2 linked regions of the Homo sapiens genome follow. The protein of the gene in region 1 interacts with the protein of each later gene in a biochemical or structural test. Each region holds a gene or a part of one and is shown in the gene's direction. Other genes may lie near its edges. The genes, in order: ACAT1 and PDHA1.

Region 1 (3,597 bases):
TAGTAACATGCTCTATTAAGTTCTGCAGTTGTGTTTGAGTATCGGTTTTTCAAAAGTGACTTATATTGGTTTTAGGCTTACCTATTTCTACTCCATGTACCACCATAAACAAAGTTTGTGCTTCAGGAATGAAAGCCATCATGATGGCCTCTCAAAGTCTTATGTGTGGACATCAGGTAAGAAACACCGTCCTTCCCATTTATTAATCAGAGTAATACCTAGGGCTAAAAGACACAAAAATCTAGGCATATTCATATTTTAGAAATGAGATTCTTTCTCATAAGTTAGTATGTTTTCTCACATGCTCAAGAGTGTCTGGATTTGCTAAGTCCATTTGAAGTATGGTCAAAATGATAGCGTAGGCTGGGTATCATGTCTGTAAGCACTTTGGAAGGTCGAGGCAGGAGGATCCCAGGAGTTTGAGACCAGCGTAGGCAACATAGCAAGCGAGACTCTGCTCTTTGAAAAAAAAAAAAGCCTAAGTGTCTTGTGTTACAAAGTTGTTTTTAGGCCCAGGCACAGTGGCTCACTCCTATAATCCCAGCACTTTGGGAGGCTGAGGCTGGGGGCAGATCACATGGTGAAACCCCGTCTCTACTAAAAATACAAAAATTAGCTGGGCGTGGTGGCAGGTGCCTGTAATTCCAGCTACTCGGGAAGCTGAGGCACAAGAGTCACTTGCATCTGGGAGGCAGAGATTGCAGTGAGCTGAGATTGTACCACTGCACTCCAACCTGGGAGATAGAGCAAGACTCTCAAAAAAAAAAAATTGTTTTTAGTCAAGGCATTTGGGTCTTTCTCTGAGGCTGGGTGACTAAAAATTCATAAATACTGTATTTGCCAGAATAAGACAGGTTTTCATTATAAAGGAGAACACGGTGCTTAACCCTGGGAATCAAATCATTGCTTGAGCCCAGGCTTGATGACTAATTTGTAGTCATTAAGTTAAGTTCTACAGGCTTTCTAATTAGCCTTGCTGATCTATATCTTGTCTTTACTTGAGATCAAGCAAGAGACAGGCTCCTTAGCAAAAATATGCTGTCATGTCAGGAGGTGAGACCTGGACACACAGAAGAATCAAGATTCTCTCAGATCTGAGCCCTTCATTTTTCAGATGAAGATTTTTTTCAGTGTGTCTGAGACAGCCACAGAGTTACAGGGCTGAGCATCTGCCATGTGACAGTCATTGGAAATAGAGTGGTGAACAAAACATTTAAAAAAATCTGTACATGTGCAGGTCTCTGTTGGAAAAATGCCTAAAAGAAATGCTGAGTCAGGATTTGAACATTTTGGTATTTGCAAATGCTTTCCATAAAAGTTGTACCAGTTAGACTTTCCAAAAATTGTGTGACTTGTCTGGATCTGCACCACCACTGGGTGGTACCAAACCCTTGTCAAACTGGTAGGTGAAAAACGGTCACCAGATTTAGTTTCAGAACTGTTTGTCATGGAAAGTTTTGTCTTAATTGAAGTATTGTGGTTCTCTAGCAAATGCCATTTGTACTATATTGAAATACTTTCATTTAATATTATTTTATTCATTTGTGGATATATACAGTGACTTATAGGCATTCTTGGAAGTGCTTTGTTTTGAATATTTATGACCTTAGAAAACAGTCAGTTTTACTTTATAATGAAGAATTGATACCTTATTTTCTGTCACTTATTATTGCCATCACCCCCAGTAAAAAGTACAAGTGAATAAAACTTAGATGAGAACTGATTAAGAATTTCTCTATTTCGGAATAGGCAAAATATTTATGTTTCTTTGGTATAGAGCTTGCTTGTCTGTATGCCTGATTAAAGACTGTAAGAAGATATTATTGGCTTTATGTTTACATTAATGTTTTATATTAAACTGTTTTTAACTAGCCCTTATAATGCAAGTGATTTTTTTTTGTTGACTTGTAAAGTAGTAACAAGTTGATTAATATTTATTAAACTTATATATGCCAGTTGCCAAGGATGTAAAAATATGACAGGGTGTCTGGCCTCAAAGGAGCATAGTCTAGTGGGAAGACTTGACATGTAAACATATAATAATATTAAAAGCATTGCATAGTAATTGGGGAACACAAAGGAGGAGAAACTGTTTCAAGAAAGGATAGAAATAAATGGTCAAGGCAGACATGAAGTAGTGTTCTGATTAGTTTTAAGAGAAATGTAGGTGTTTTACATGTTGGTGGATGGGGAAAGTGCAGAGGTATGTGTGTGAAATGTGCATGGTGTCTCTGGAGAGCTTTAACTAGTTCCATGTGACCTGAGGTATAGGTTAGGCTGTGAGACTGAAAAAGGGGAGAGAAGGGATACTGTAAAGGCTTTATATATTATGCTGAGTTATCTAAGGTGCGAAATGATCAGACTTACATTCTAGCCAAAATGAGTCAGATGAGTGTTGATGATGCTTTGGTGGAAAGGCTGCATGTCAGAAGATCAAGTGGAAAATTATCTCAGCTGTCCAGGAAGAGATGATGAGGATCTCAGTCAAGGAAGTATGATTATTTTCATGAACTGAGATTACTTCTAATCTTCTAGAGCACATTAAATTTTTAGCAGCATGAATGAAATGAAGGGTTAGAAGTTAAGAATTTCAGGCCAGTCATGGTGGCTCACACCTGTAATCCGAGCACTTTGGGAGGCTGAGGTGGGCGGATCGCTTGAGTCTGGGAGTTTGAGACCGGCCTGGGTGATATAGTGAAACCCCATCTCTACTAAAAATATTATACAAAAATTAGCTGGGTGTGATGGTGCATGCCTGTAGTCCCAGCTACTTGGGAGGCTGAGGTGGGAGGATCACTTGAGCCCAAAAGGCAGAGATTGCAGTGAGCTGAGATCGTGCCACTGCACTCCAGCCTGGGCAACAGCGAGACCTGTCTAAAAGAAAATTTAAGAATTTCAGAAGATGGTTTTACATGAAAGATTTCTGGTATTTTTTTTTTAAAGACAGAGTCTTGCTTTGTCACCCAGGCTGAAGTGCAGTGGTGCGATCTTGGCTCACTGCAAGCTCTGCCTCCCAGGTTCACGCCATTCTCTTGCCTCAGCCTCCCGAGTAGCTGGGACTACAGGCGTGTGCCACCAAACCCGGCTAATTTTTGTATTTTTAGTAGAGATGGGGTTTCACTGTTAGCCAGGATGGTCTCGATTTCCTGACCTCGTGATCAGCCCGCTTTGGCCTCCCAGAGTGCTGGGATTACAGGGGTGAGCCACCGTGCCCAGCCAGATTTCTGGTATTCTTATTAATGTCTGGTTGTGAACTTTTGAGACAGAGCCTTGCTGTCACCCAGGCTGGAGTGCAGTGGCACGATCTCAGCTCACTGCAATCTCCGCCTCTACTTTTTTTTTTTTTCTTTTGAGGAGTCTTGCTCTGCCCCCCAGGCTGGAGTGCAGTGGCACAATCTCAGCTCACAGCAACCTCTGCCTCCCAGGTTCAAGCAATCCTCCTGCCTTGGCCTCCCGAGTAGCTGGGATTAGAAGTGCCCACCACCACACCCAGCTAATTTTTGTATTTTTAGTAGAGACGGGGTTTCACCATGTTGGCCAGGCGGATCCAGAACTCCTGACCTCAAGTGATCCACCTGCCTCAGCCTTCTAAAGTGC
Region 2 (3,978 bases), on another chromosome or scaffold:
GGTTGTAGCCTAGGAGCAGTAGGCTCTACTATACAGCCTAGGTGTGCAGTGGGCTGTACCATCTAGGTTCGTGCATTACAGTATGGTGTTCACATGACAAAATCGCCTAGTGATGCAATTCTGAGAATATATCCCTGTTGTTAAGTGACGCGTGACTATTTTGGGGGCTTGGTTTGCTTTTAAAGACCTAGTGCTTCATATCCTACCGTTTGAGAGATGAGTAGATTTGGATGGTGATTTATAATGTTTCCTTTTAGGTGTCTGCTGTTTTATAAGTAAGCAGGAACCTCTAGCAGTGGAGCCATACCTTCCCCTTCCTATTTATATTTCAGTACATTAATTGCTTTATCTTGTCAACTTCATTTTGGGGTCCTTGTTCTCATCAGTTAGTGAATGATGAAGAATTAACAGCACAAAATTATATCCGGACTGTTTCTTTTCCTTTCTAATATATTAAGATTCTATTATGTGTTGTTTTTTTTTAAACCTAGGTTTTATTTTTCCTTTTGAAATGGAGTCTTGCTCAGCCGCCCAGGCTGGAGCAGTGGTGTAATCTCAGCTCACTGCAACCTCCACCCCCGGGTTCAAGCAATTCTCCTGCCTCAGCCTCCCGAGTAGCTGGGAATATAGTTACGTGCCACCATGCCCAACCATTTTTTGTATTTTTAGTAGAGACGGGGTTTCACCATCTTGTCCAGGATGGTCTCGATCTGTGGACCTCGTGATCTGCCCAAAGTGCTGGGATTACAGGCGTGAGCCACCACGCCCGGCCAGGTTTTATTTTTTAACTCTTGAATGCAGAAATGTTAGTGCTTACTGGTTAAAATAGAACATAGTATTTATATATTACTTTAGTGCTTTATTGAAAATATCGGAGGTGGGATAAACAGAGAGATAGGGTTGGAAGGAGAGTTTGTAGCAGCAGTGTAATTTCTGTGTCAGATTCTGGCCAGGAGTGAAAATGCAGGGCATTAATTAGTATCTCCCCTCATGGATTTCTGTGGTTCCTTTCTCGGTTGTCCTTAATGTTAGGTGCCCCTGGGCGCTGGGATTGCTCTAGCCTGTAAGTATAATGGAAAAGATGAGGTCTGCCTGACTTTATATGGCGATGGTGCTGCTAACCAGGTAATTATGTCTCTTAACTTCCCAAAAACAGTCTTATTTTCAAAGTCTTTAATATTTACAGTTGAATTTCTAAAGAAGTAGCATATTGCTTATTAGGTGAAATAGCAAGTCCTATGGCTAGCTCAAATTTGGTTGACTTATGGCCAGATTAGAGATTGACCTCTTAGCGTTGTTTCACAAGAGACTTACGGGGGCACATTCCTGTGAAGGAGCTCACCTTTGCTCTACATCAGTGCTTGGCAAAGGCCCTGTGGTAAAGGACCTCCCCACAACCTATTGCAAAACAATACAGACCCATTCTCTTGGATGTCCGGGCTGGCAGTGTCAAATTCGGATAATAGCGTCTGAGTCCTAACTCAGTTTCTATGCTTCTCTTGTTACCGAGTAATCCCCAGTCTGTGGCCAGCACTCTGTGAAGCCCTGTTCTAGAGGCTGATTCTTAGGTGCTGGTTCACTCTGGCTATCCAGTGGGCCTGATAGATTTCATATTGATCTTTTTTCCAGTGTGTTCCTTACTGCTAGCATGGCCCCAAAGAAACAAGTAGTAGTTGGTTTGTCACCTTCCTTAGTTGCAAGAGTATGATGCCTGCTACTTCTCCTCCACCACCCACCCCGCTTTCCCTCACCACCCAAAGCTCGGTTTTAGAAGAGGAGGCTTTCTGTGCTTTATGAAAGCTTTCTGTGCCAGGCAGAGCAGCAGCTGTTAGAGATGATGAAGCCTGGAGAAAGAAGCCAAATGAAACCCCTTTTCGTAACTACTTCCAGGGCCAGATATTCGAAGCTTACAACATGGCAGCTTTGTGGAAATTACCTTGTATTTTCATCTGTGAGAATAATCGCTATGGAATGGGAACGTCTGTTGAGAGAGCGGCAGCCAGCACTGATTACTACAAGAGAGGCGATTTCATTCCTGGGCTGAGAGTAAGGACACCTGTGGTGGGGCCGGGGCCAAGGCCAAGGCCAAGGGTATGTCCTTGTGCAGACCCTTGACGATCTTAGAAACATTGGAGAGTTTCATTCTCATACAGGAGCAGGTCATGTGAAAGTAAAATGGTTTGGGGCAGTTGGATTCATGCTTCGCCCCTCCCCTGTTTATTACCAGGTGGATGGAATGGATATCCTGTGCGTCCGAGAGGCAACAAGGTTTGCTGCTGCCTATTGTAGATCTGGGAAGGTAAGGCTCTAAAGCCCTCTGGGCTAGTGACATTTATCTCTGGAAGTTCAAAGACTGCCTCCCATGTGCCTGCTGAAGCTGTTAGTGGGTACCTGCTAATTGAGGTGCATGAGATGGAAGCAGAGTGAAGGGAGCAGGGCTCCTTTGGGTAGCTTGGTCTTGGTAGCTCACCTGCTGGGAAGCCTACGTTTCTCTCATTTGGGGGAAGTCCGTTCTGGTGCTTCCTCTGCTTTGGCCTGTCTTCATGACAACTGATTTGCCTTTTCCTTAGGTTAATTCTGTCCCTCCTCCCCACCCCCCATTAATCATGAGTCCCTTGAAGGAACAGATTGGGGATCCCCACAGTGTCCAGCATAGAATGTCATGTATACAATAGGCATTTAATATGTGTGTCTTATACAAATTAAACAGTATGGTAGAAGCTCGTAATCTTAGTCTTGCTCAGTCCTAAGGATCTTTCCCTTTTCAGTGTATGGCAGTGAGGGAGATGGTAAGAGGGAGACTGGCCTAAAGAGGTTTCACTTCCTTTGGCACTAGTATAGGCTTAGGAGGTTTGGGTGTTCTCCCTAAATCAGTGTTCTACAGCCCAGAAACAAGGTTTCTGAAGTTGGCACTTCAGCGCCATACCATGTACGTTTAGGCAGTGATGTGAATCAGATGTGGCCAGCAATGATGGAAATGTCACAAAGTGGAGAGACAGGGAAGTGAGGGTGGGAATGTAGTAACATTAAATAAGAGCTAATGAGTAGAATGAACTAGAGCAGGACCAAGACTACAGCTTGGGTACAATGGGCTGAGCAGTCTATGTCAGGACCCTAAGGCTGGGAGTGCCAGGCCCTGAGTGATGGGTATTGACGCCACCTCTCCCAATTCCTGAAAAGAATACATGGGGGCCAGCCCTGGCTGGAGACAAGGGGAGTTGTAGAATGTAGTTGTAGAATGTGTGACTTTCCCAAACAGATAACCTTCACAATTCTGAGTTAGGTGTTATTGTTTTGCCCATTTTGCAGACAAGGAAACTGAGCCATAGAGCAGTTAAAGGTACACAGCTACTCTGTCTTGGAGCCAGCTCCCCACTCGCCCATTTTAACTGCTGCACCAAACCAACCAAGGATCCTCAATGTTTCTCCACCCCAGTGTTCAGAGCCGTCTCCTGGAAGTGGGCTAGTGTAGAATGAGCGAGCCCAACTGTCCAGACTCCCAGCAGAGCCTTGGGGTTTGGGTAGCAGAGGTTGTTGGTGCCTGCCAACTTTGTTACACACTAGCAAGGTCTGTGAAGTAGGAGTGGCTGCCAGCCCCACAACACACCATGAGAAAGGAGCATGAGATGGAAATCTGTCTAGCCAATAGCAGGAGGCTCTAGAACATGCTCAGAGCCTTTTTCTTTTTTCACAGGGTCTCGCGCAGTGGCACACTCACAGCTCACTGCACCCTTGACCTTCCAGAATCAGGTGATCCTCCCAAGTAGCTGGGACTACAGGCGCACGCCACCATGCCTGGCTAATTTTTGTATTTTTTGATAGAGATGGGGTTTTGCCATGTTGTCCAGGCTAGTCTCGAACTCCTGGGCGCAAGTGCTCTGCCCACCTCAGCTTCCCAAAGTGCTGGGATTACAGGCATGAGCCACCATGCCTGGCCTTCAAAGCCTTTTTGATTCAAAACAAGCTGTTGGCAGATTG

What was found.
Region 2: of the proteins of ACAT1 (region 1) and PDHA1, one has a biochemical effect on the other in vitro, tested with the Homo sapiens proteins (one study listed by BioGRID).

What each region holds. Positions count from the first base shown.
Region 1 is NC_000011.10:108,135,067-108,138,663, forward strand, and holds part of ACAT1 (acetyl-CoA acetyltransferase, mitochondrial isoform b precursor), read left to right. Parts: intron 1-75; coding exon 76-176; intron 177-3,597. UniProt on the Homo sapiens protein: This is one of the enzymes that catalyzes the last step of the mitochondrial beta-oxidation pathway, an aerobic process breaking down fatty acids into acetyl-CoA.
Region 2 is NC_000023.11:19,353,459-19,357,436, forward strand, and holds part of PDHA1 (pyruvate dehydrogenase E1 component subunit alpha, somatic form, mitochondrial isoform 1 precursor), read left to right. Parts: intron 1-1,032; coding exon 1,033-1,125; intron 1,126-1,890; coding exon 1,891-2,046; intron 2,047-2,227; coding exon 2,228-2,299; intron 2,300-3,978. UniProt on the Homo sapiens protein: The pyruvate dehydrogenase complex catalyzes the overall conversion of pyruvate to acetyl-CoA and CO(2), and thereby links the glycolytic pathway to the tricarboxylic cycle.